7 linked regions of the Homo sapiens genome follow. The protein of the gene in region 1 purifies or fractionates together with the protein of each later gene. This does not show direct contact. Each region holds a gene or a part of one and is shown in the gene's direction. Other genes may lie near its edges.

Region 1 (3,500 bases):
TTTTATCTCTGCAGAATTTGAACCCACCAAGTGTGTCAAACTTTGTCATTAGCTAGGTACTCAAATCTTTAATTTGATCCTTTAATTGCTGATGGTAGCCATTTGTTAGATTTCTTATGGTGGAGCAGAATTTGTTTTTTTTTTTACTTTCTCATAGAGAATAGTTTTTTTTTTCCCAATAATTTCTATGAAATTATTTTATATATATATATATATATATTCCTTAAGTGGAATAATATATATTATATATATTCCTTAAGTGGAATAATATATATTATTATATATATTCCTTAGGTAGAATATATATATTTCATATATAATTATATAATAAATGTTTAGCTGGGATGTAAATTGAAATCATTTTCTATTTGCAAATCACTTCAAATATATTTGCTATCACAAAGCAAAAAGTTACCATATTTTGTTTAGAATATTCTTATATATATATAGTTTCTTAAGCTCCTGTGAGTAGCAGCCCTAGACATTCAGATTCGGTTGCTCAGTTTGTTTATGATTTAGAAATTAATGGGTTTTTTTTGCATTGTAATATATTCTGAAGAGTCAAGTAAATGATATGTTCTGTTTTGATATCTAGTGATTTTATGTTGAATAATGGTCAGTAGCATGATATTTGTCCCTCTCTTGATTTATTGTTTAGTGGTGGGAAGGACAGCTGCTATAATATGATGCAGTGCATTGCTGCTGGGCATCAGATCGTTGCTTTAGCAAATCTAAGACCAGCTGAAAACCAAGGTAAGTACATGCCTTTATTGGGAAGTTGCCTAAATGAATGAAATTCCAACTTCATAATTACATTGTACAGGTATACCGTACAAAGATGAAAAAAAAAGAACCAATAAATATTAAGCACCCATTAGATGCTAGTTTCCACCTAGAACTTAGCATTAAGTGTTTTCACTTACTTTTTAATTCTCATAACCAACTTCTATAGAGATGCACTATTAATCTTAATAGACAGGGATCCTGAAGCTTAGAGTTTGTCTGAAGTAAACTAGCACAAACTTGTAGAGTTAAGACTTGAACCTTCTTACTTCAAAGTACACTACCATTTTACCCCACCACATTCCCAAGTACTGTAGGCAGCATAGAGGTAGATAAGATACAGTCTCAGGCCTCAAGGAGCTTGAGAAGTAAGACACATATTGATAAATGATATATTAATTTTATTATTAAAAGGATACAGTTTACCTATTTTAGATGTAAGCCAGAAATGTGAGACTTGAGAGAAGCATAAAGCAATGCATTCCCACTTTTCATTTGTCTGTAGTAACAAGGGCATCCACATATAATTCACAGACCTCATATTGACTACTTTTTTCATTCTTTTCTCCAATGAAATATCCCCAATTATAGCTTTTGAAAAAAGAAATATATTCACCAATTTGCTTTTTAATGCTATTGTGTTATACCTATGAAACTACAGATATTAACTGCTAAAATGTAAGAGGGAAAAAAGATTAGCACTTTTGTGACTTTTGTATTACTGCTTCTCACAGGACTTTTCTAGTAAGATCTTTTTATTCTCTCTTTTACTTCTTTCCAGGCTCCATGTTTTTGCACTGTTATTTTAAGATTAATTAAATGAGTGGTGTATGTGAGAACATCAGTCGTAGTTCCTGTCATGAAGTAGGCATTCTGTAAATTTAGCTGAATTGGAATCTAGCTAAATACTTGTTTTATATCTTTAAATGGATTGATTATAAGCTTCTTGAGAAGAGAGATCATATCTTCTATCTTCCTTTTATTGCTCCTCATCACTTGGGCCGGCTCTATGCCTCTGGTAGGAGTTCACGCAAGGTTGATTGGTGGACAGGTGTATAATGAACTAATTTGGATTAGCCCTGGAATAGTGAGCAGTTATTTCAGTCAGATATTTGAATCTTCTTTCCTTCTGTGATTAAGATGTAAGTAATGCTGGATGTCGTGTGGAAAGACAGAGTTTAGAAATATTTTATAGGAAGAAATGGAAAGGTCCCACAGAGAGTCAGAGGTAAATGCACATGTTTGGATTTTGTGCTGCAATTGATGAGTAACAGATGGTTTTTTAGAAGTGATGTTTTTTGAAAGAGTTCCAACTTTAAGAAAGAGAAAATTCTTTGAGGATGAATAGGAACTGCACTCTAACTTCTGTATTATAAAAGAAGAAGCAGAATCTCCTGTTAGGTTTACCAAAAGAGAGAAACTCCCTTATCCCTTGTGGCCAGGGGGAGGCAACTGGGACTTTCAAGCTATCTTGTGAAGTTAAAAAGCAGATGTTTATATAGTATATAATACATACATGGTATATTATAATTTCATCACTGGAGTTTCTATCTTGTTTTCAGCTTTCACATGAATTATTTTACTTACCTAGTACAGAACCATTAATATATAATCTTCCTTGTGTTCATGGTTCACCAGCAGGGTGGTAAAATGACAAGCAAAGTATATTTTTAAATTATACCTCTCAGTAGAATAGAGACACTTATTTAGAATATTGTTAGTGAGAAAAAATTTGATAGTAAATAGAATTAGAATATTCTGAAGTAAAAAGCCTGGAAAAGGCAGTCGAAACAATAGTAATTGTTGTAGAAGAAAACAGATGGCTGTGGGTTGGTAGATGGAGATGGTTTAGCTCATCTTGATGAAAATCAGCAGGACATTGGGAATTATTGAACAATTCACTGAATGACTTATTTTCCTATGAGTGTTATGAAAGAAACCTTAGTGAGGAATGACTGGTAGAGATGACTCCAATGTCCAGCAAAGTTACGGGTTTTCAATGGGTGGTGTGAAAAGGAATTTATTCCCATCAATGAGGATAATGCGAACTTGTCATAAAATTCACAAAACCATCTCTTTAGATTTGTAGTAGGAACTTTTGTGGCATGTTAATTGAGTTGCTTCAGGCAACAGGGGAGCCTTTGGTTTTATTTGATCTCACACTATTGTTGCTCTGTAGCTTCCATTAATCAAAGTTACAATGTGGTTAGGACTAAATAGAGCCTTAAAGAAAATTATCTTCTAGGTTTTTGAAGCCAGTGAGATGTTTTACTTATTATGCTAACATCAGAATGTTTCTTGCCAAGAAGCCCAAATTTCTTTGAGTAAATTGGTTTGATTGTATCAATATCCTTTAAAATGAATGTATTTAAAGATCCAGTCTAATTTTGAGACGAGAGAAGGCCGAAAGGTTTTTAGGTAACTTTGGCTATGTTCTCTACTTCCTACTGGGACCAGGAGTGGAAACATTTATAGTAACAATGTGAGTAATATTCTGAAGGAAGCCAATCTAACAATGTGTGAGTTCAGAAACCTGTCAGCCAAAATGGGGTAGCAGATTTTGATGATTTTGATTGTTGAAGGGGCCCTTGCACTATCACTTTTCATTCCTTTTGATAGGAAGTTTTCACATTTAATGGAAAGCCTGGACCTGTTTGGCTTATATTCATACATACACACATAGGTATATGTCAAAATAACTACTTTGTAATTTTTTT
Region 2 (3,089 bases), on another chromosome or scaffold:
TTGAGGATGAGATACAATTGCTGTAAAGAACTATAAATTGAAGGATTTTTAATCTTAAAATTTATTTCTACTCCTACCTTTTCACCAGTCTTCTAACCAGAAGACCAAGGAATGATAACCAAGTGACTGCTAACTGATTTTTCTTTGATACAGTGTTTTTTCTGATTATAAATTATTTTACTTTACCAAGTTAAGTTCATCAGATTGACAATATGTGATATCAGATGCACAGTTTTGCAGGGTGGAGTTTCTGCTTTCAAACAAGTTTACTGTACAGCACATTTTATCAAGGGAAGTTTGCTGAAGTTGTTTTCTTTTAACCTGATAACCATTGAAAACTTTTCTAGTAATCCCCAATAAAACTGGGCTTCAGTTCCGTTACCTGTACAATAAGACAGACTAGTGGATCTCTTCAGGTCTCTTCCAGATCTGAAATTCTGATTCTATGAAGAGTTCAAGGCATTTCTCAGAAGTGACCAGATAATATTGATAATGCCTTATTGGGAATGCAATTAGCGTCATTACCTGACCTCTTTATTTCCCTGATTGAATATAAGGAAGGGAGTTATTGTTTATTTGCCATGGGCTTTGTGCCAAACCAGAGCTTGTTTCTTACCTTTAGTACACTTAATGCTTTAAACATACCGTCTTAGGATCAATTGGAAACATGCTAAGTTTACTTTAAAATGACAGATAGGGCACTGTCTTTTGGCATGTGAAGGCACTTCTCATAATCACAGCACTGGTAGGTTTTCTTTCTGTTAAACTGAGTAAACTTATATGTTTTGAATTGAAAGGTCTATAAGGTGTGGAGAACTTTAGGGAAAGCTAAAGTCAGTTTTAGGGTCACCAGCATAATATGTTTATAAGCATTATCTTGGGAAAGCCCCTAGTGCAAGTATAAAGCTTACTTTGATAGAGAAGGAACTAGTGATAAAAGGTCTTTTTTTAAAAAAAGAGAAAAACTTACTGGTTTAAATAGGAATTTTCCTTCTGTGTAAGAAGTCTTGGGGAAAAAACTCATTCTCGTTTAAACTACAACAGTGTCTTTATTTCTTTACAGATATTGCAATGGCAAAATCAGCAAAGTTAATTCAACAGCAGCTGGAGAAAGAACTGTAAGTGTGAAAGAGGCCTGTTGGTTAATTATATATCTTAACACTTAGACTGTAAGCAGCATATTCATGTTTCTTTTGTTTGGTTTTATGTGATTATCACAATTATAGACTGAAGATTAGTGTGATAAATATTTGTTAAATAATTTACAAAATAATGGAATCACAAAAACTTACTAGGGTGCTTATAGATATTTTAAAATTTCATGGAAAGAAGATTTTTTTGAAACCATAAACTTAATTTATTTTACCATTGTTACTAAATCATTTATAGTTGAAAGGTTTTAGAAGCTAAAAAAGTTTACATGCCAACTTGAGAACGGTGTTATTTCAGTGAGTGGAAGTGTTTGTTCACCACTCAATAATGCCTGTGAAGTGGTATTTAAGGATGCATGTAAATAATAAAAAATAAAAACTGAGAATCAGGAAAAAAGAAATTAAAACATTTAAAAGCCACTTTGGAAATTATTGTTGACAGAATAAGAACAGAACACTGAGGAAGACTACAAGTCTTTGATACTACATTATAGCTTCTTAGATTGTTAAAATACTTGGCAATATTATATATCCTGCTTTGAGTGTTTCAAGGTTTGTAAATTGAGCTATAAGCTTTTGAATTTTAAGGCATCTAGCATGTCTTCTGCGTTATGCCAATTTGTAAGAGCTAGCCAAAAGCTGGTGTAGAAGAAATGATCAACATTTATAGTAAAGCAAGTTATGTTTTCTTATTGCTTTTGTGTAAGGCCTTGAAAAGGATCTGATGAGGAAAAACTGTATAAATTCAACTTTTAGAAACTTTTCTCCCCACTATGACTTACTGACTCCCTTATTCATTTAAGAAGCACCTGTAGTGCATCTAGTGGATGCCAAGACTGCAGTTGGGAGCAGCTGTAGGAGGAAATGTGTTCCTGTACTCAGGAGCTTAGAGTCTGGTAGAATCTAGTCAGCTTCGGGCATTGGCAAACTCCTGCCTGGGCCTGCAAGCCAAGAGTAAATCGACATTTTTAAAGGGCAGGTAAAAAACAGAAGAAAAATATGCGACAAAATATTTAATTTCTGGCTCTTTGCAGAACAATTTTGCCAGCCCTGCCTATGCCATTTTCAGTGGTTCCTTTCCCGTCTGGAGCTGCGAGTTTATCACCCTGTCCTCCTGTGCTCTTGATGCTCACTCTCTTGGATTGTATCTGTTGCTGCCATTAGGTTAATAAGGACATTGGAACAATTGGATGGTTGGGTTTTTCTAAAAATTCTCTTGAAATTGTTGGGAATTGTTTTGGGGAAGCCAAAACTGTCATAATGTTATTTGTGAATCAGTCTTGGGTTATTTTTAACAGTACAGTCCAAGTCTCCCGTGGTTAAAACACATGTTTTCCATAGGCTGTTTGCTTTTCACTCTATAGACTTAGAGAAAAACAATACAGAAGCCAATCCTTTTTTAAAAGCATTGAAAGGCAATGCTTTCTTAAAAGGCAGTGAAACAAAATGTTGACAAATTGTAAAGGTTAACATCAGTTAAAATTCGGAATCTGACTAATTTTAATCTCAGATTTATGAGAATTAGGCCCTGTTAGCTTAGAGGCATTTCATAGTCTCTCAATAACACGGTATATTATATTTACATGGCCTTGTGGCAAAAGCTGAATACATGTTTTACTTTTTTCCTTAAAAAATTTTTATTGTAAAATATCTTACTTATAATAGTATATATGTCACATGCATTAAGCTTAAAAAATATTAAAATGAATACCTATGTACTCACCACCATGCCTAGAAGGCCCCTGTTTCTCCCCAAAAGCTTTTCCCTCAAGAGGTCAGCAATATCCAGTTTTGTATTGTTTTTTAAAAATACTTTTACAGTGTGTGTGTGTGTGTGTGTGTGTGTGTGTGTGTGTGTTCCTTCCTAAACAAGGTATTGCTTAGTTTTGCCTGTGGATTCTTCACTAATTTTGAAGCAACTTTACAGAACAAGAAATG
Region 3 (3,500 bases), on another chromosome or scaffold:
TTCCAGCTGAGCTTAGCTTCTAGAATGGTGTAGGTTTTGAACATCCTGTAAATTGCATTTGTTTTCCTCTCAGCAGTTGCTGAGCAAGTAAATGTTCCAGTAAGATTTTTCAAATGGGCTGGGCCTAGCGGCTCACTGCTGGAATCCCAGCACTTTGGGAGGCCAAGGTGGGAGTATCACTTGAGCCCAGGAGTTTTAGACCAGCCTGGGCAACATAGAGAGACCTCATCTCTACAAAAAAATAAAAAAATTAGCCAGGCATGATGGCGTGCCTCCGTAGTTCCAGCTACTTGGGAGGCTAAGGAAGGAGTGTTGCTTGAGTCCAAAAGGGTGAAGCTGCAGTGAGCCATAGTTGCACCAATGTACTTTAGCCTGAGTGACAGAGGTTTTTTTCCCCGTTTCAAGGGGAAAAAAAATTTCAAACGACTTAAGACAAAATAAAAAAGATAAGACATAACCCAATGAGTATTGCTACACTCCTCTTTCTGCTACATTTCGAGATAGTTTGTGATCAATGTATTTAGAAAATTAAATTACATTTATAGTAACAGGTATGATTAATATATAGCAAAATGCCATGTTCTGTTTCAGTTTGATACAAATCTATTGTTGAAGTTATTTTGTTAATCATTAATAATATTAAATATATATCTCTTTTTTTAACCCCTTCATGCTCTTTAATGAAACAAGATCCAGTTGTTAAACCTAAAACAGAAAAAGAAAAGCTGAAGGAACTCTTCCCAGTCCTTTGCCAACCGGACAACCCTTCTGTTCGGGTACTGATACCATTTTAAGAGTGTCTACTATAAATATATATTCTCAACCCCTTTTCTTTGTCTCATAGTAATTTTATTAATTTTAAGTTTGCCTTTGTTGTAACTTATTTTTAAGAATGAAAGTGTTTGATCACTCCCTGAGCATGTACTATGTATTGAATTTGTTAAGGGGTTCTGAGAATGATATTCAAGGGAAATGAGATTGGGAATTTGGGGAAGTAGTGATTAGGAATATGAAATAAGGTTCTGGAACAGATGCCTAAGGTGTGAAATTAGATTTTTTTTTTTTGCTCTGTTACTTGTTAAAGGTCTAATTTTTAAAGCATTTTGATTTTTAAATTTCATTTTAATAAATATTTATTGAGTACTTACTGTATGCCAAACACTGTTCTAAGTACCTGGATAACAGCAGTGAACAGAACAGACAAGAGTTTCAGCCTTTGGAGATTATATCCTAATTTTGGGGTAGGGAGCAGGAAATAAACATGTAAACATTCTGGTGGGGAGGAGATAGGCAATAAACAAACAAATAGGTATGTAACATAGCAGATAGCAATAAGGGCTATTTAAAAAAATAAAGCTGGAGTGGGGGTAGGGAGGAAGAGTGCAGAGGGAGAGTTGCTTTTTAAAATTTTTAACACCTGTTTTCTATTAATATAATCATCACTTGCATTCTTTCATGGCAGGGATGATTAATATCTAACTGCCTTTCATAGAATTCTATTAAGGACAGAGGGGATTTGTCAAATGTAGCAGTAATTCTCAAGAGCCTTTTTTCCATTTCTTCTGCATCTATCCTGAATCAAGTTTGAAATCTCTGCCCCTCTTCTATTTCCCTCACATAGTGATTAGTGATTTATAGATGTACCTGAGGTACATACAGATTCTTGAGTAGTTTTTTTTCCTAACTTTGCCGGCCTCTACCTCTGCAGACCATGTTGGATGAAGATGATGTGAAAGTTGCTGTGGATGTCCTGAAAGAACTGGAAGCTTTAATGCCCAGCGCAGCAGGCCAGGAGAAGCAAAGAGATGCTGAACACCGGTTTGTCCTTAGTGTCCTGTCCTTTGGAAGTTTAGGGTACTGTGACAGTTGAATATTATGGACCAGCCAAGCAAAATTTTGGGCAAGTTTACAGAATCTGGACTGGTCATATATCATATTGTTGGATCTGTTTTCATTGCTTCCTGCTAAGTGTATGTAGCAAATGCTAGGTTGTTCAGAATATAGAAGTCAGGGTTGAAAGAGGCTGAATATGTTTGTGGCTCAATTCTTTATTGGCTTATAGGGATGTCGTAGTTATTGAAACTCTAATTCAGTTCAAAACCTAGTGGGTACCTACCATGTGCATGGCACTGTACTGGGTGCTTGGGGATGCGAAGATGAAATCGGATTGGTTTCTTTTTTAAACAGGTGCTTATTGATTTGTTAGGGACAGGACAAAGAAGAAGAAGCGGAGTCGAAGCCGAGATCGAAACCGAGATCGAGACAGAGATAGGGAACGAAACCGAGATAGAGACCACAAGCGGAGACACCGATCCCGCTCTCGATCACGTTCCAGGACCCGGGAGAGGAATAAAGTGAAGTCTAGATATCGGTCCAGGAGCAGGAGTCAGAGTCCCCCCAAAGACCGGAAGGACCGGGACAAATATGGAGAGCGGAATCTGGATAGATGGCGGGATAAGCATGTGGACCGCCCTCCTCCAGAAGAGCCCACCATTGGTGACATTTATAATGGCAAAGTTACCAGCATCATGCAGTTTGGTTGCTTTGTGCAGCTGGAAGGACTAAGGTAATGACTGGTGCTCTTTTGTTCACACCAGTGATGGGCAGAATTTCTTTTATCACTGAGGATGTTCACATTCTAAAAAGTTACTTTGATTAATGACACTTTAGTCAAATCAGCCATACATGGTTCTTAGAAATTGACTCTTTTGAAATGTTACAGAGCCATTTATTCCTTTCTCTGTCTTCAGGAGATCTGTCCTTTGCTTGTTGGGACAGATAGAATTTGCTTCCCCACCCCATGTCTCCCCATGAGGAGAGTGTTAATACTATTTTATTGTTTGACCACCTTCATGGTACTTTTCTCTTGAGTTTAAGACCATTTTCTTTTGTTAGTTCCAGTAAGGGTAGAAATTGGTTGGGGGAAAAATATTTTTTGGCATGTTCCAGATGTGTCTGGCTCTCCCTCAGGAAGCGGTGGGAAGGCCTGGTGCACATCTCTGAGCTCCGGCGGGAGGGTCGTGTGGCCAATGTAGCTGATGTCGTGAGCAAAGGCCAGAGGGTCAAAGTCAAAGTGCTGTCCTTCACTGGGACCAAGACCAGCCTGAGCATGAAGGTAGGTGAGATGGTCAGCCTGTTCTTACATGTGATGGCCAAGGGAATGGAAGAGGACAGCAAGTGAGACAGCTCCCTTGTTTTTGTGCCTTAGGATGTGGATCAAGAGACTGGAGAAGATCTAAACCCAAATAGACGGCGAAATCTTGTCGGGGAGACCAATGAGGAGACCTCAATGCGGAATCCTGATAGACCCACTCACTTGTCCCTTGTCAGTGCTCCTGAAGTAGAGGACGACTCACTGGAACGCAAGCGCCTCACCCGAATCTCTGACCCAGAGAAGTGGGAGATCAAACAGGTTGGGGCCTTTAGTTTTCATGACCAGATAGTCATTCAGCATGTAGCATGGTGCTTAGGGGTGTGCCCTGGAGCACGATGGCCTGGGA
Region 4 (3,500 bases), on another chromosome or scaffold:
TTGAGGCTCCAGTGAGCTGAGATTCCACCACTACACTCCAGCCTGGGCATCAGAGCGAGACGCTGTTTCCAAAAAAAAAAAAATGCTTAGAGGAGCAGTGCCTGGCTTGTAGGAAGCCCCAAGTCAGCGTGGGCTGGATGCTGCAGGCCCCAGCCTGGCTTTCCAACTAGAGGCCCTGTCCCTAACCCTCCCACAAAGGTGGAGGCCATTGAGTACTACACAAAGCTGGAGCAGAAGCTGAAGGAAGACTACAAGCGGGAGAAGGAGAAGGTGAATGAGAAGCCTCTTGGCATGGCCTTTGTCACCTTCCACAATGAGACTATCACCGCCATGTGAGTCCCCAACTCGGCCCTCGGCCCTGAGCAGCCCTCCAGGGCTCCCTGACCCCTGTGCTCATGGCCTTCTGCCAGCAGTGTGGCCTCCAGGTGGGCCTGTGGTAACCAGTGCCCATCTTTCTAGCATCCTGAAGGACTTCAACGTGTGTAAATGCCAGGGCTGCACCTGCCGTGGGGAGCCACGCCCCTCATCCTGCAGCGAGTCCCTGCACATCTCCAACTGGACCGTGTCCTATGCCCCTGACCCTCAGAACATCTACTGGTGAGCAAACAGGTGTCAGGGCAGGCTTTCCAGGGCCTGGGATGGGCTCAGTAGGTAGGCGGAGGAGAGGGAGTGTCTTGGTGTCACTGGGGGCCAATCCTGCCCTTGGTTCCTGGACTGACCGGTTCCCCACCTTGCCAGGGAGCACCTCTCCATCCGAGGCTTCATCTGGTGGCTGCGCTGCCTGGTCATCAATGTCGTCCTCTTCATCCTCCTCTTCTTCCTCACCACTCCAGCCATCATCATCACCACCATGGACAAGTTCAACGTCACCAAGCCTGTGGAGTACCTCAACGTGAGGCCTCATGCCCCTGTCACTTTCCACGCTGGGTCACAACACACAGATACCAGGCCCTGATCCCTCTTCCACTTGCCCAGCCCAGCCCGTTCTGCTTGTTCCAACCCCGTGCCACCAACCAGCTCCCAAAAACCCCTGTGTGCACTTCCCTTGGGCTCCCTGCCACCTTCCCCCTGAGAGAGGCCACCCTCAGGTGTGCAACACCTGGAGAAACACCCAGGGAAGAGAGAGAGCCTGCATTTAGTCCTGATCTCAGAGAAGTCCCCTTCCCTCACCCCTCAGTCTAACTGAAAAAATGGAAAGGTTCAACTAGATCAGTGGCTTTGGACTTGGATTCTGATCTCTTTATCGGTGTGAAACCCAGTGTGGAAAAGCAGGGCTGCTCCGATGACAGTAGGGTGGCATGCATGTCTGCCTGGCCTCCCCTCACCTCTCCTCCCACGCATAGAGCATACCTCTTTAGAACCTCAGAGTTTGAAGAAGGACAGTTTGCAAATCACTTGGAGTGATAATACCATAATAGATAAGACCCAGACTGCATGGATTCAAATCCCTACCTCATGGCTTGCTAGCTAGGGAAGCTATTGAATCTTTTTTTTGCCTCAGTTTACTCATCTGTCAAATGGGGTAACAGCATTATTGTGAGGATTAAGACATGGCAAGTACATCAGCACTGCTTAGAACATAGTAGATGTTCAGCAAATGCTGACTATCAGTATTATCCACCCTGGGGTTATACATATGGCCCTGGCCCCCACCCTCACCCCAGCCCTCCGGATGTTCTGGGCTTCCAACATGGGAGCCCTGAGAGTTGTGAGGCCAAGGGCCCAGCTGGGGAGGAGGCACATAAGCAAAGCCACCTGGGCCCCCTAGACTGCCCTGCCTGACGCCCCCCTGTGCCCTGCTGCAGAACCCCATCATCACCCAGTTCTTCCCCACCCTGCTGCTGTGGTGCTTCTCGGCCCTCCTTCCCACCATCGTCTACTACTCAGCCTTCTTTGAAGCCCACTGGACACGGTAAGGTGCCTCCACTCACACCACACCTCGCTGTGGCCTGCCCTCAATGACCCATCCTCTCTGGGCAGCACTTTGCCCTTCAGGCTCCTGGCCCTGGGCAGTCCCACAGCTGGTAGGGAAGGGGTAGTGCCCAGCACCCTCACCTTGGGAGGCCCACCCTTCCCAGGGGACACTCCTTGGACATTGTCCTTGTTGGGGGAGCAAGTCTGGGGCCTGGGCTCACTTGACCTGTACCGTTCCCTGCTCCCCTCCCTCCAGCTCTGGGGAGAACAGGACAACCATGCACAAGTGCTACACTTTCCTCATCTTCATGGTGCTGCTCCTACCCTCGCTGGGACTGAGCAGGTGAGTTGAGAAGGATGGGGCAGGAGCCAGGGTAGGGGGACAGCAGGATAGGGAGAGGAGAGCAGTTCAGCCTCCCTACCTCCCCTACAAAGCAAGGGGCCCAAGATGGGAAGCCTGGCCACCCCCAGGCCTCCTGAGCTACCCACCCCATGTCTGGGAGTCTCCCCAGTGGCTCACAGAGGAGGGACTTCCCCTCCCCTGGTGTTCTGTACCACTCCAGCTCCCACCCCATCTCTCCTCTGCTTCCCTCCAGCCTGGACCTCTTCTTCCGCTGGCTCTTTGATAAGAAATTCTTGGCTGAGGCAGCTATTCGGTTTGAGTGAGTGACTGGGGCCCCTAGGGAAAGAGACCAGACAGCAGGGGTGGGTATGCTTGAGAGACATTGCCAGCCCCATGGGAGGGTGCAACAAAGCTTCCAACTCCTGGAGGGGGCAGAAGAGAGAGGATCTGGCGGGGTTACCCCAAAGGCACCCACAAGGTGTCTTGGGTGTGTATACATGGTAGAAGTCCCTGGGGTCTGTGTTGGTGTTCACTCTCTGGTAACCTGTTTGGATGCTAAGATCATCCTCAAGGTATATTTGGGGCTTGGGGCTCCACATTCTGGTAGTTTCTATGGGGGTGTCTTGTGCCCATATTCTGGGACTAACTGTGGGCGTCTCTGGAGTTCCACTTGGGAGGTTTGGGGAACCATCTCTAGGGAGGTCTTGGTGATACTTAGGGAGTGTCTTGGAGGCTACTAGGGGTATCCCTGAAGGTCTCTAGAGCCCATATTTTTGGGTATGTGTAGGAGGCTCTTGACCTTATAACTCTGGGGGTGTCTGTGGGCGGGGAGGCTAAAGGACTCACACTTTGGGATGTTTAGCAGTACAAGTTCTGGGAACATCTCTAAAATTTCAGGCTTTTATTCAGAGATGTAACTGTGGAGTTCTGTATGGGCATCTTCTCTGGGAATCATGTGAGGATATATTGAAGGTCATGCACCATGGCTGTGGGCACAAACTCTAGGGGTTTTGCTGTAGGCCATCTGTGGTGATCTTTGAGTCACACTTGGGGCATCTCAGGCACTGATAAAGGTTCCTGGGCTCCCCCAGAGATGTTGCGGGAAGGGTCTCAAAGCTTGTTTGTGGAGGTATCTGAGGCTCATGTCACACTCTGGGGGTAACTCGAGTTATGGTCTAAGTGGGGGAATCTTCTGGGTGTTCCTGGGGCTGTCAGCCTTTGGGTTCTTTGAGGGTCTCATTGG
Region 5 (3,500 bases), on another chromosome or scaffold:
ACAATCTTGCTCTGTCGCCCAGGCTGGAGTGCAGTGGTGCGATCTCAGCTCACTGCAAGCTCCGCCTCCCAGGTTCACGCCATTCTCCTGCCTCAGCCTCCTGAGTAGCTGGGACTACAGGTGTCCACCACCACGCCCAGCTAATTTTTTGTATTTTTAGTAGAGATGGGGTTTCACCGTGTTAGCCAGGATGGTCTCAATCTCCTGATCTCGTGATCCGCCTGCCTCGGCCTCCCAAAGAGCTGGGATTACAGGCGTGAGCCACCGCGCCTGGCCTCATCTTGTTATACTTTTTAAGTATGTCATTCACCTTTAGTAATAACCTGGGTTTATTCTGTTCTATAAATTACACCAGGATTGGGGTTTTAAGGCTACCTGTATTTCTGCTGGCACACAATTAAGGTCACCTATTAAACTGGTCTTTGTCATTTTTATGTCTAAAAAAAATACCTGCAGTGTGATTGGAAAATGTTGCCTATCTGATAGACTTCCTGAATTTAGGCTTACAAGAGTAGATAGCCCAGATCCTAGCTTTGGGCATTGTTGGGGTAATACAGATGCCCATCTTTTATTTTCTGAGATAGGTTCTTATATTCTGGCTTGTTGGCTAGCTCAGTTTGTTAGTGACATACAAACCAGGTCAAGGGCATGGGTTAGCTTTGCCTTGTTTTGGAGCCACAAACTGTACCTGTAATTCTAGTCAGATTTTTTCTGTATCTTTTTTTTTTTTAAATTAATCATGCTTTTGGGGACTAGACTGTACATTGTGGACATATCAGTGCACAGCTATCACTACTAAGGGCAAAAAAAGGTGCCATATTTTAAAGCGAACTGGTAGGAAAACCCTGTAAGTGAGAGGCAAGACTGCCAGCAGCTTGCTAAGGAACCGTATGCTTCTGACAGTTGTCCTCCTGTGAAGATTAGGTCAGGACTAGGGGCAGCTTCTTGAAAGTTTGCCAAAGCCAATAGCCTTGATCTTTTTCCTTTCTTGGCAGAATGACAGATGCCATCAATGTGTGTTTGGGTGCTACTTCTGGACTTACTCTTAGATAAAGTTCTGGATATTTGTGCCCAAGAAGAAGAGTAAAGGATGGTGGTCAACATTATTCACCAGATGAGATAGATTGTTCATATGTGCCTAAGCTTAAATTTGTATTAGTTTCATAGAGATTTGGTAAAACCAAGCAGGGAAATGTTTAGACACAAGTTAGAACCCGCAGTTCTGTAACAAGAGGTTTAGACCAGGGACCCTTCTAAATCCCCAGAATGTACTACAAAATTAATTGTAAGAAATGGGCCGGGTGCGGTGGCTCACGCCTGTAATCCCAGCACTTTGGGAGGACGAGGCGGGCATATCACAAGGTCAGGAAGTCGAGACCATTCTGGCTAACACGGTGAAACCCCATCTCTACTAAAATTACAAAAAATTAGCCGGGCGTGGTGGCGGGCGCCTGTAGTCCCAGCTACTCCGGAGGCTGAGGCAGGAGAATGGCGTGAACCCGGGAGGCGGAGCTTGCAGTGAGCTGAGATCCTGCCACTGCACTCCAGCCTGGGTGACAGAGCGAGATTCTGTCTCAAAAAACAAAACAAAACAAAACAAAAAAACAAAACCCACAAAAAAACTAATTGTAAGAAATTAAAGGAAATGAAACAGCTTAAACTGAAGAAACTTGCTGCATTCTCTATTCTTGAAAGTTGGTGAAATTGTGAATATGGAAAATGTCATACATTTCTGTTCAAGGCAACCCATTTGGAATTCTTTTTTCTTTTTTGAGACGGAGTCTCGCTCTGTCGCCCAGGCTGGAGTGCAGTGGCGCGATCTCGGCTCACTGCAAGCTCCGCCTTCCAGGTTCCCGCCATTCTCCTGCCTCGGCCTCCCGGGTAGCTGGGACTACAGGCGCCTGCCACCACGCCTGGCTAGTTTTTTGTATTTTTAGTAGAGACGGGGTTTCACCGTGTTAGCCTGGATGGTCTCGATCTCCTGACCTCGTGATCCGCCCGACTCAGCCTCCCAAAGTGCTGGGATTACAGGCGTGAGCCACCGCGGGAATTATTTTTTCAAATGCAACTACAGTTAACTCATTATTAGTGGCTGCTATTTGATTTAGGCTGATGGTGGAAAAGAAACAACAATACCATTTCTGTTTGGTTTCCCCATCCTGTTTGTGTGGCAGTCATTTCTGCGTTAGAGGTACTTTGTTCAGCACTGTTGGTAATGTGAACTAAAAGTTGGAGGACATGCAATAAATAAATGCTGGAATTGAAGCCAATGGCTGAGACTGACCGCACCATGTTCTCAGAAGGTTAAATGAACAGGCCTGCTATTATATTTTCGTCTTTTAAAAATCAAGAATAGAGATTAAACTGGAAATACTCTGACCCATTTAGGGCTTGAGATTCTGTGAGTAGGTAACACTTCCAACTATGGAAGTTCTAGGAACTGTGGCAGGAAACTGCCTTGCCTATGATATTTTCTGCTAAGGGCTGGTTAAAATGTTTTTAAAAATGTATATAGTTTTATATTTAACCCAATTTCTTTTCAGGCTGTGTCTGAAGTTACGTTTCTTCCATACCTTACCTTTTCTTTCTATACTCCCTGCATTGCAGTTTGACAGTTCTGCTCCTTTGGCTTCTCTGTGGGCAGGGTGAGATGGCTGTCTCCAGTCTGCCAAGTTCCATATCTTGGGAGCCCCATCACTGACCTTACAGAAAAGCATGTCTTCCCCCCTTAACCCTCTAGCTTAGAATGAGAGCTGTGAGGCAGCTGGGAGAGGAAGGCTTACATTGTAATTCTGTCAAGCTCAGATTGTTTTTCTGACGAACAAGTTGAGGGAAGTAGGTAGAGGGGAGGACAGAGAGAGTTGCTGGGTTTCACTTATCTTATCATTTGTTTCCCTCTGGATGGCCTTTGTTTATGCTGTCTCTTCAGGCCAGGAATTCCTCCAACAGAAATCATGCGTACACTCGGGGACATTCACATTGGGGCTTCCTTCTTGTGTTTCCATTTGCTGATTTGCCTTTCTTTTCTTTTCTTTTCTTTCTTTTTTTTTTTTTTTTGAGACGTAGTCTTGCACTGTTGCCCAGGCTGGAGTACAGTGGTGCAATCTTGGCTCACTGCAACCTCCGCCTCCTGTGTTCAAACAATTCTCCTGCCTCAGCCTCCCAAGTAGCTGGGATTACAGGTACCCGCCACCATGCCCAGCTAATTTTTCTATTTTTAGTAGAGACAGGGTTTCAACATATTGGTCAGGCTGGTCTCAAACTCCTGACCTTGTGATCCGCCTGAACTCCTGACCTCATGATCCGCCTGCCTCGGCTTCCCAAAGTGCTAGGATTACAGGCATGAGCCACCGTGCCTGGCCCCATTTGCTGATTTGCCTTTCTTCTCTACAGCCTGATCCGGAAGGAGGGGTGGAAATACTTAACCTGCTTTTAATGCTTCTGTTAGGGGATAAAGAGATTTTACAACAGTGATGTGGGGCAAACATGTGGGTGACTTT
Region 6 (3,987 bases), on another chromosome or scaffold:
GAATTATACTTTGGTATAGATAACTCCTTTTACTCCAACAACATTGTTTAAAAGCACAAATCGCACTCAAGCGCAGCCAGCCGTATATGAATAGCAGAGGAGAACGGAAGTTAAGAGACTAACAGAAGTAGTGAAAATGAGAGAGCACGCGCGCGAGAGAGGTAAACACAAACTGTTCGCCTGGACCAACGACTTGAAGACTTGCCTCTAAGAGTTGGAAGTCTCGTCATGAGTCTCTTGCATTTCTGTCCATTTAAAAACAACCTCCACTTCTTGCCAAGCTTTATTATTCCCCCCTCCCACCTGGTGTGGTTTACAGATTGTTTTTAGCAAGAGCCGTATAAGAGAAGCTACGTACCCAAGACAATCTGAAATCAAGAGAAAACTGCTGCTAGAAACCCAAGGCGGGGAAGGAGAAGGATCAACCGAGAAATTAAGCCACGTTGCATTCTGGCCGCAGCAGTCATTAAGGAAGCGCAGTCCTCCCCACCCTTTTCAACCAGGACCGAATGTTGCGTCTTTCTCAGCTGCAATCACTCCTACTCTCCCTGTGGCAGCTGCGAAGGTGATCTACACTCACCGCTTGAAGCACAGTCGCCAACAACAACCGTAGCCCAAACGCCGGCACCAGACACCCACTCGGCCCAGCCGCCATCGCTACCATTTTCCGCAGGTTTCTGGCTGCCTAGAAGGACCCCTAAGCTAGGGGCGTCCACTCCAGAGCCTGATCCAAAACAGAACGCTAACGGCCGTTGCCCTTACATCTCTCATTTGGAAGTGACAGGTATTAAATAACGGCATATGAAAGCTTAAAAGTCATCAAATACAATCACTGGGTGCTTTCGATTACCCAAATCAGGCACTTGCCTAAACTCCCCACTTCTTTACTTCTGCGGTCTCCTTTCTTTTATTCACGACACTTCGTCAAGCAGCCAAGAAGCCACGCCTTCGCCAGTTTTAGCCCCGCCTTCTTCTCCAAGTTTACCCAATTGAATGTCGTCTTGATTGAGCTCTGTGGCAGAGGAAACCAACCGTAAACCGAACCAAGAGCGAAGCGCAGGGGCTCTTCCGTCCAATAAGCGGACCCGAACGGGGGGAGGGGCGGGGCTTCTGGTTGCCGAGCAGCGTACGCGGATGCGTGCGCGTGGTGGCGGAGGGGGATGGGCGGGGGCGGGGATGAGGGCGGCGCAGCCGCAGCGCCGGTGGAGGGGCGCGCGGCCGCGAGCAAAGGAGGGAGGGAAGGAAGGAAGAGAGGGAGGCGGGCAAGCAGGCGGGCGCGGGGGTCGGGGACTGAGGCAGTAGAGGGAGGCGAGAGCCCGGCAGCCGCTTCGCGCTGTTTGCTGCGCGGGCTTTTGGAGGGGGCGGCCGTTTAGTCGGCTGAGGAGAAGCGGACACCAGCGGCGTTGGTGATAGCGCCTGGGGGAGGGGGACTGGAGAGGCGAGAAGGGGGGTCGCTGCGGTGGTTCTCTCGCTGTCGCTCTCTCTTTGCCTCGCTCCCGGCTCGGCGGGCTCCTCCCGGCGTCTCTCTCGCCTCCGGGGTCCCGCTCCCCGCCCCCCGCGGTATGTCTTGATCCCGAGCAGCGGGTTTCATGGGGCTCCTCAGGATTATGATGCCGCCCAAGTTGCAGCTGCTGGCGGTGGTGGCCTTCGCGGTGGCGATGCTCTTCTTGGAAAACCAGATCCAGAAACTGGAGGAGTCCCGCTCGAAGCTAGGTGAGGAACTGAACTGCCCCGGGCTGAGTGCTGTGGAAGGGGCCGAGGAGGCGCTGCCGCCGGAGCAAGTGGGCGTTCATCTAACCTGGGGTCTGGCTCGGGGGCTGAAAGCGGTTTCAAAGAGAACCGGGAACAAGGGGCAGCGAGAGCACGAGCTCCAAGAATGGGTTGAATTAAGCTTGAGCGGCGTGCTGGGCTCGCGAGGTCACGGGGCAGAGGTTGCAAGGTTGGGCTTCCCTAGCCAAAGGGTAGCCCCGAAGTAGGCATTCCGCGGAGAGAGAGCGAGAGAGAAGACCGAACTCAGTGGGGAGCGTGTGTTGCTGGTCTCCGGAGACAGAAGCGCTTAGCATCGCGTGTTCTCTTGGAAGTCGTACAGGAAGCCCTGGCAATGTCAGATGAGGGGTATTCTAATTTGAGCTATGGGCATCTGGATACGAATTCTTTTGGGGGCTCATGAAGGGATAGGTGCGCAGAAATGGGAGGAGATGCTGGGATGACGGAGAGCAACATGTGAACACTGTAGCGAGTTGCACTCTTGTGCTCCGGGCAGCAAAGGACCTTGTAATTGCCAGCTGAGGGAGGCTGGCCGGGTAGTGCGGGAACGCGAGTGCAAAGCTTCATCGGAGTACGGAAATGAGGGTCCGGAGATTTAAATTCTTCTTTAGTGGCGCTAAACTGATGAATTGGGGCTTGAGAATAGGGATGCCTATGTATGTTGCTTCACGGCAGTGTTGATGTGAATTTCGAAGAGGAGGGAACGCTGAAGGGGAATTATGTAGTGAAGTTTGTGTTTGTTAAAGGAAAAGTAGGATTATGCGGAAAGCTAACCATATGGTTAAATACCTTAAAGGGTTAACAGGTGCTTTAATGGATGAGGGGGTCTAAAGTACAAAAAGTTGGTGTGAAGTTGTGAAAGACAGGCCAGAAAAAAGCACAGATAATAGGTACTTTCGGATTAATAGGGCACTTTGGCATTTGGAAGAGCTCAGCATGGAGAGCGAGAGTTAAAAGAATGACAGTGATAAATTTTGATTTAAAAATGTACATGGCACTTAAAAATCAGCTCAAGAGGATGTAATTTGAATATGGAAAAGTAATGTGAAGTGTTTTTTGCATACTCTCACCTCAAAATCATTTTAAATACCTTTTGAGAAGCCAGCAAAAACAAAAACAAAAAACCCTCAGCAGTGTAATTTAGACTAAGAAATAGATGTTACTGTGAGTGGATGATTAATTTTTAGGAAAAATGTACCAGAAAATAATTGTAATATTATGTATAGTAGCTATTTTGGTACAAGGCTTTGCAAAAGCCTTGACATTTTAAAGAGCCTTGAAAGAAAAACCATCAAGTAAATCTGAGTGAAGTGCAACTAAAGTTGGAGGAAAACTAGAGTTACTTCCAGCCCTCAATTCTAGAGTAAAATTTGAAGAGATACTCAGTTTATTTACGAATTCCTTTATTAATATGTATCTTGTGTGGTGGAAAAAAATGTCCACTTTAAATATTGAAGGTTATCCAGTCTGGTTTTTCTTTTCTTTTGGATCCATTTAGCGACATTCAGGGTCATATTCTGGCGTTATTAATGATCCAGCTCTACAGAAAAAAAGACTCCTCTTGAAGTGGAAAGTTATATTAAAATTAAAATTTGTACTTATTTTTTGTTTTGTTACTATTTGGAATTGTCTGGAGTTGATTTCTTAGACACGTTACAGTGGGTTAGAATGACTTAAATTTTTGATTTTCCTCCTTTCCTAACATTTCTTTCCCCATATACTTGAAAATTGCTTCCATAGACACAATCTGAATGATTTTTAAAAGAAAGTTATCTGAAGATGTATAATGCCACAGTTAAAATATAAAGTGCTTTCTTGTGATACAAGAAAGAAAATTTCATAAAAAGTAGTAAATATGCATCAAAATCCTCCTGGGACTACAGATGGGTATACCTGGGAGTACAGGTGGGTGTTACCATGCCTAGCAGAGGAAACCATATTTTGACAACCATATTCTGTACTAGGCACTTTTCATCGTAGATACTCGTGTTTAAAGTAAGAACACCATTTAAAGCCATTTTTGACCAGACACGGTGGCTCACGCCTGTAATCCCAGCACTTTGGGAGGCCGAGGCCGGCGGATCATTTGAGGTCAGGAGTTCGAGACCAGCCTCGCCAACATGGTGAAACCCTATCTCTACTAAAAATACAAAAATTAGTCGGGCGGGGTGGCGGGCGCCTGTAATCCCACCTACTCAGGAGGCTAAGGCATGAGAACCG
Region 7 (3,500 bases), on another chromosome or scaffold:
TTTAACTTAAATAATTTTTCCCATCTTTCATCGACAGGTGGTAACGTCCTTATCTTGGCTATTTGGGGGGACAAAGGAGCCCCACATATGCAGGCCTTACACTTCTCTTTTGCCTTGGGTGCCTTTTTGGCTCCACTGCTAGCTAAACTGGCTTTGGGTCCGACAGCGTCTGCTGAAAACCACACAGAGTCTGACTTCCATCCTGCACTCAACCAATCATCTGATGCTGACTCAGAAGCTCTGTTTGGAGTACCTAATGATAAGAATTTACTGTGGGCTTATGCTGTTATCGGTACTTACATGTTCTTAGTTTCTGTCATTTTTTTTTGTCTGTTTTTAAAGAATAGCTCAAAGCAAGAAAAAGCAAGAGCATCTGCTGAGACATTTCGAAGAGCAAAATATCACAACGCCCTTCTTTGTCTCCTTTTTCTGTTCTTCTTTTTTTATGTTGGAGCTGAGGTAACATATGGCTCTTATGTTTTCTCATTTGCAACCACCCATGCTGGCATGAAAGAAAGTGAAGCTGCTGGGTTGAACTCCATCTTCTGGGGGACATTTGCAGCCTGCAGGGGCCTGGCAATCTTTTTTGCTACCTGTTTACAGCCTGGAACCATGATTGTGTTGAGCAACATTGGCAGCCTGACTTCATCTTTATTTCTGGTGCTTTTTGACAAGAACCCAATTTGTCTCTGGATAGCAACTTCAGTGTATGGGGCTTCAATGGCAACCACATTTCCGAGTGGTGTTTCTTGGATTGAGCAGTACACGACCATCCATGGGAAATCTGCAGCATTTTTTGTAATTGGTGCTTCCCTGGGAGAAATGGCTATTCCTGCAGTCATTGGAATTCTTCAAGGAAAATACCCTGATTTGCCTGTAGTTCTGTATACCTCTTTGGGAGCATCAATAGCTACTGGTATTTTATTTCCTGTGCTATATAAATTAGCCACTTCACCTCTTGATCGCCAGCGAAAAGAAGACAGAAAGAGTGAGGACCAGAAAGCTCTGCTCTCTAGCTCCGGGCTAAATGAATATGAGGAAGAGAATGAAGAGGAGGATGCAGAAAAATGGAATGAAATGGATTTTGAAATGATTGAAACGAATGATACAATGAGGCATTCTATAATAGAGACATCTAGAAGTAGTCTGACGGAGCCCACAGCTGAAGTCTATAATCAATACCCATCAAATGCACTGGTGTTTGAGTCTTCTCCTTTTAATACTGGCAGTGCCCATGTGAAGCACTTGCCAGAAACCAGGACAAAAGGGACTAACGTTTAGAGAAGATGGATTACTCACTGACATCTTTGAATAACTGCCACTTCTAAGGACGCCATTCAGAGCAGAGCATTAGCAGAATTTCACCATGCTTTGGGGATTAAAATTTTTAGGTCCATATTATAGCAAATGCTAAAAATTTTTGAAATGTTCTGTAATTCCCAGAGTCTTCCATAAATAACCAAATGGTCTCATACACGTACAATAGGATCTTGTTATAACGCTATCATTTGACATGTGACTGATTAGGAAATATTTTATGGTCTCCACCCCTCAGAGCACCCAAAGAAGGCATTGTTTTTGAGAAGGGGGGTATTCTCAGAATGAGACCATGTAGGAGTTGAATTGATTGGTTGAACAAATTATCAGGTATCAATATTTTTCCAGGAAAGTTGAGGAGAATAGTTTCATAAAAGAGAAATGGGCCGGGTGCAGTGGCTAAAGCCTGTAATCCCAGCACTTTGGGAGGCCGAGACGGGCAGATCACGAGGTCAGGAGATCGAGACCATCCTGGCTAACACAGTGAAACCCTGTCTCTACTAAAAATACAAAAAATTAGCCAGGCGTGGTGGCAGGCACCTGTAGTCCCAGCTACTTGGGAGGCTGAGGCAGGAGAATGGCGTGAACCCGGGAGGTGGAGCTTGCAGTGAGCCGAGATCATGCCACACCGTACTCCAGCCTGGGCGACATCTAGACTCCGTCTCAAAAAAGAAATGGAGAGGTATTTTTATTAATTGCTTTACCTTATCTGTAGGGTTGGATCAAAGAATGTAATGACTCATTTGATTTCTAATTTCAATGAAGAGAACACAGAACAGGGCCCAAGGGGTCGGGCTTCAAGCCTTGACTTCTTCTAGCCCTGCACTCTGTCACTTAACGTAGGCCTTGTTTATCTCGCCTCCTGATCTGTGATTCTAGAAATGAAAATGAGATGATTTCCAAATTGGGAATCTGTAAGTTTTAAAGTTTGTGCAAAATGTCTGCTAGAAATTAGTACAAGTGACAGCATGTTCTTCATTTCAAATGAGAAGTGAAACCAAAATGATAAATAGCTTTAAGAATGTGCTAATGATAAATGATTACATGTCAATTTAATGTACTTAATGTTTAATACCTTATTTGAATAATTACCTGAAGAATATATTTTTTAGTACTGCATTTCATTGATTCTAAGTTGCACTTTTTACCCCCATACTGTTAACATATCTGAAATCAGAATGTGTCTTACAATCAGTGATCGTTTAACATTGTGACAAAGTTTAATGGACAGTTTTTTCCCATATGTATATATAAAATAATGTGTTTTACAATCAGTGGCTTAGATTCAGTGAAATACAGTAATTCATTCAATTATGATAGTATCTTTACAGACATTTTAAAAATAAGTTATTTTTATATGCTAATATTCTATGTTCAAGTGGAATTTGGAGACACTATGTTCTAATTTTAAGAACTGTTTCAGTGTTATTAGATTAGTAGTAGGGCTGTAGATGGGGTCTTTCGAGGTCCTTTGCCTACCTCAGTAACAGAGGCTGGGTCTGAGCCTTGCTCGAGATTAGCTCTTCACCAGGTCTGTGTGGTAATCATATCGTAGTTACCGTAGGTCACGCTGCAAGTGTAATTTACAGTGAGGCATAGTCTTTTCCAGTGATTGGAATACTTGTGTCACCGATCCAGGGTTTCTCTTTCCTGAGTCTGAAATACCTGGGAAACCAGTTAGAAGGTGACTGGGTAGCCTAGGAGTCAAGGATCAGAAAGGGTACTTCATATATATGTGGCAGAATTGGTGCAGGTGATCCTTTGAAAAATGACAAGAATTGATGAAATTTTGTTTACTTCCTCCAATTTTTTGCTGAATAACATCTCCTTTCTACCTGATTGGAGTAGGCTTGCTTTCTCTTACTTAATTTCTATAAATTTGCCATTGTTTTGTCTCAAGTAAAATACAGTGTCTTTCTTGACCACTGCCCGCCCATTCACCTTATATGCCTGCCACAGTCTTGGTTCATGTAATAACCTAACAGCTTTGGAGATGGCGGTGGAGAAGTTAATGGTAAAAACCTTCTTGCTCTTTTTATTTTTATTTATTTATTAGGGGTGGGGGATGGTGTCTCACTCTGTCACTCAGGCTGGAGTGCAATGACGTGATCTCAGCTCACTGCAACCTCTGCCTCCCTGGTTCAAGCGATTCTTCTGCCTCGGCCTCCTGAGTAGCTGGGATT

What was found.
Region 2: the proteins of DPH6 (region 1) and SRPRB purify together in Homo sapiens (co-immunoprecipitation; one large-scale study listed by IntAct). This does not show direct contact.
Region 3: the proteins of DPH6 (region 1) and DHX8 purify together in Homo sapiens (affinity purification with mass spectrometry; one large-scale study listed by BioGRID and IntAct). This does not show direct contact.
Region 4: the proteins of DPH6 (region 1) and TMEM63B purify together in Homo sapiens (co-immunoprecipitation; one large-scale study listed by IntAct). This does not show direct contact.
Region 5: the proteins of DPH6 (region 1) and DAAM1 purify together in Homo sapiens (co-immunoprecipitation; one large-scale study listed by IntAct). This does not show direct contact.
Region 6: the proteins of DPH6 (region 1) and HS2ST1 purify together in Homo sapiens (co-immunoprecipitation; one large-scale study listed by IntAct). This does not show direct contact.
Region 7: the proteins of DPH6 (region 1) and SLC60A2 purify together in Homo sapiens (affinity purification with mass spectrometry; 3 studies listed by BioGRID and IntAct, with this or other methods). This does not show direct contact.

What each region holds. Positions count from the first base shown.
Region 1 is NC_000015.10:35,539,666-35,543,165, reverse strand, and holds part of DPH6 (diphthine--ammonia ligase), read left to right. Parts: intron 1-658; coding exon 659-753; intron 754-3,500. UniProt on the Homo sapiens protein: Amidase that may catalyze the last step of diphthamide biosynthesis using ammonium and ATP. Diphthamide biosynthesis consists in the conversion of an L-histidine residue in the translation elongation factor (EEF2) to diphthamide.
Region 2 is NC_000003.12:133,815,815-133,818,903, forward strand, and holds part of SRPRB (signal recognition particle receptor subunit beta), read left to right. Parts: intron 1-1,063; coding exon 1,064-1,118; intron 1,119-3,089. UniProt on the Homo sapiens protein: Component of the signal recognition particle (SRP) complex receptor (SR). Ensures, in conjunction with the SRP complex, the correct targeting of the nascent secretory proteins to the endoplasmic reticulum membrane system.
Region 3 is NC_000017.11:43,490,475-43,493,974, forward strand, and holds part of DHX8 (ATP-dependent RNA helicase DHX8), read left to right. Parts: intron 1-690; coding exon 691-776; intron 777-1,708; coding exon 1,709-1,818; exon of another isoform or gene 1,819-1,900; intron 1,901-2,187; exon of another isoform or gene 2,188-2,206; coding exon 2,207-2,566; intron 2,567-2,970; coding exon 2,971-3,115; intron 3,116-3,208; coding exon 3,209-3,412; intron 3,413-3,500.
Region 4 is NC_000006.12:44,148,054-44,151,553, forward strand, and holds part of TMEM63B (mechanosensitive cation channel TMEM63B), read left to right. Parts: intron 1-198; coding exon 199-332; intron 333-459; coding exon 460-597; intron 598-738; coding exon 739-892; intron 893-1,805; coding exon 1,806-1,912; intron 1,913-2,170; coding exon 2,171-2,257; intron 2,258-2,510; coding exon 2,511-2,576; intron 2,577-3,500. UniProt on the Homo sapiens protein: Mechanosensitive cation channel with low conductance and high activation threshold. Osmosensitive cation channel preferentially activated by hypotonic stress.
Region 5 is NC_000014.9:59,195,167-59,198,666, forward strand, and holds part of DAAM1 (disheveled-associated activator of morphogenesis 1), read left to right. Parts: intron 1-3,500. UniProt on the Homo sapiens protein: Binds to disheveled (Dvl) and Rho, and mediates Wnt-induced Dvl-Rho complex formation. May play a role as a scaffolding protein to recruit Rho-GDP and Rho-GEF, thereby enhancing Rho-GTP formation. Can direct nucleation and elongation of new actin filaments.
Region 6 is NC_000001.11:86,913,448-86,917,434, forward strand, and holds the start of HS2ST1 (heparan sulfate 2-O-sulfotransferase 1), read left to right. Parts: upstream 1-1,187; 5' UTR 1,188-1,589; coding exon 1,590-1,713; intron 1,714-3,987. UniProt on the Homo sapiens protein: Catalyzes the transfer of a sulfo group from 3'-phospho-5'-adenylyl sulfate (PAPS) to the 2-OH position of iduronic acid (IdoA) or glucuronic acid (GlcA) within the heparan sulfate (HS) chain and participates in HS biosynthesis.
Region 7 is NC_000006.12:111,265,839-111,269,338, forward strand, and holds part of SLC60A2 (sodium-dependent glucose transporter 1), read left to right. Parts: intron 1-37; coding exon 38-1,281; 3' UTR 1,282-3,500. UniProt on the Homo sapiens protein: May function as a sodium-dependent glucose transporter. Potential channels for urea in the inner medulla of kidney.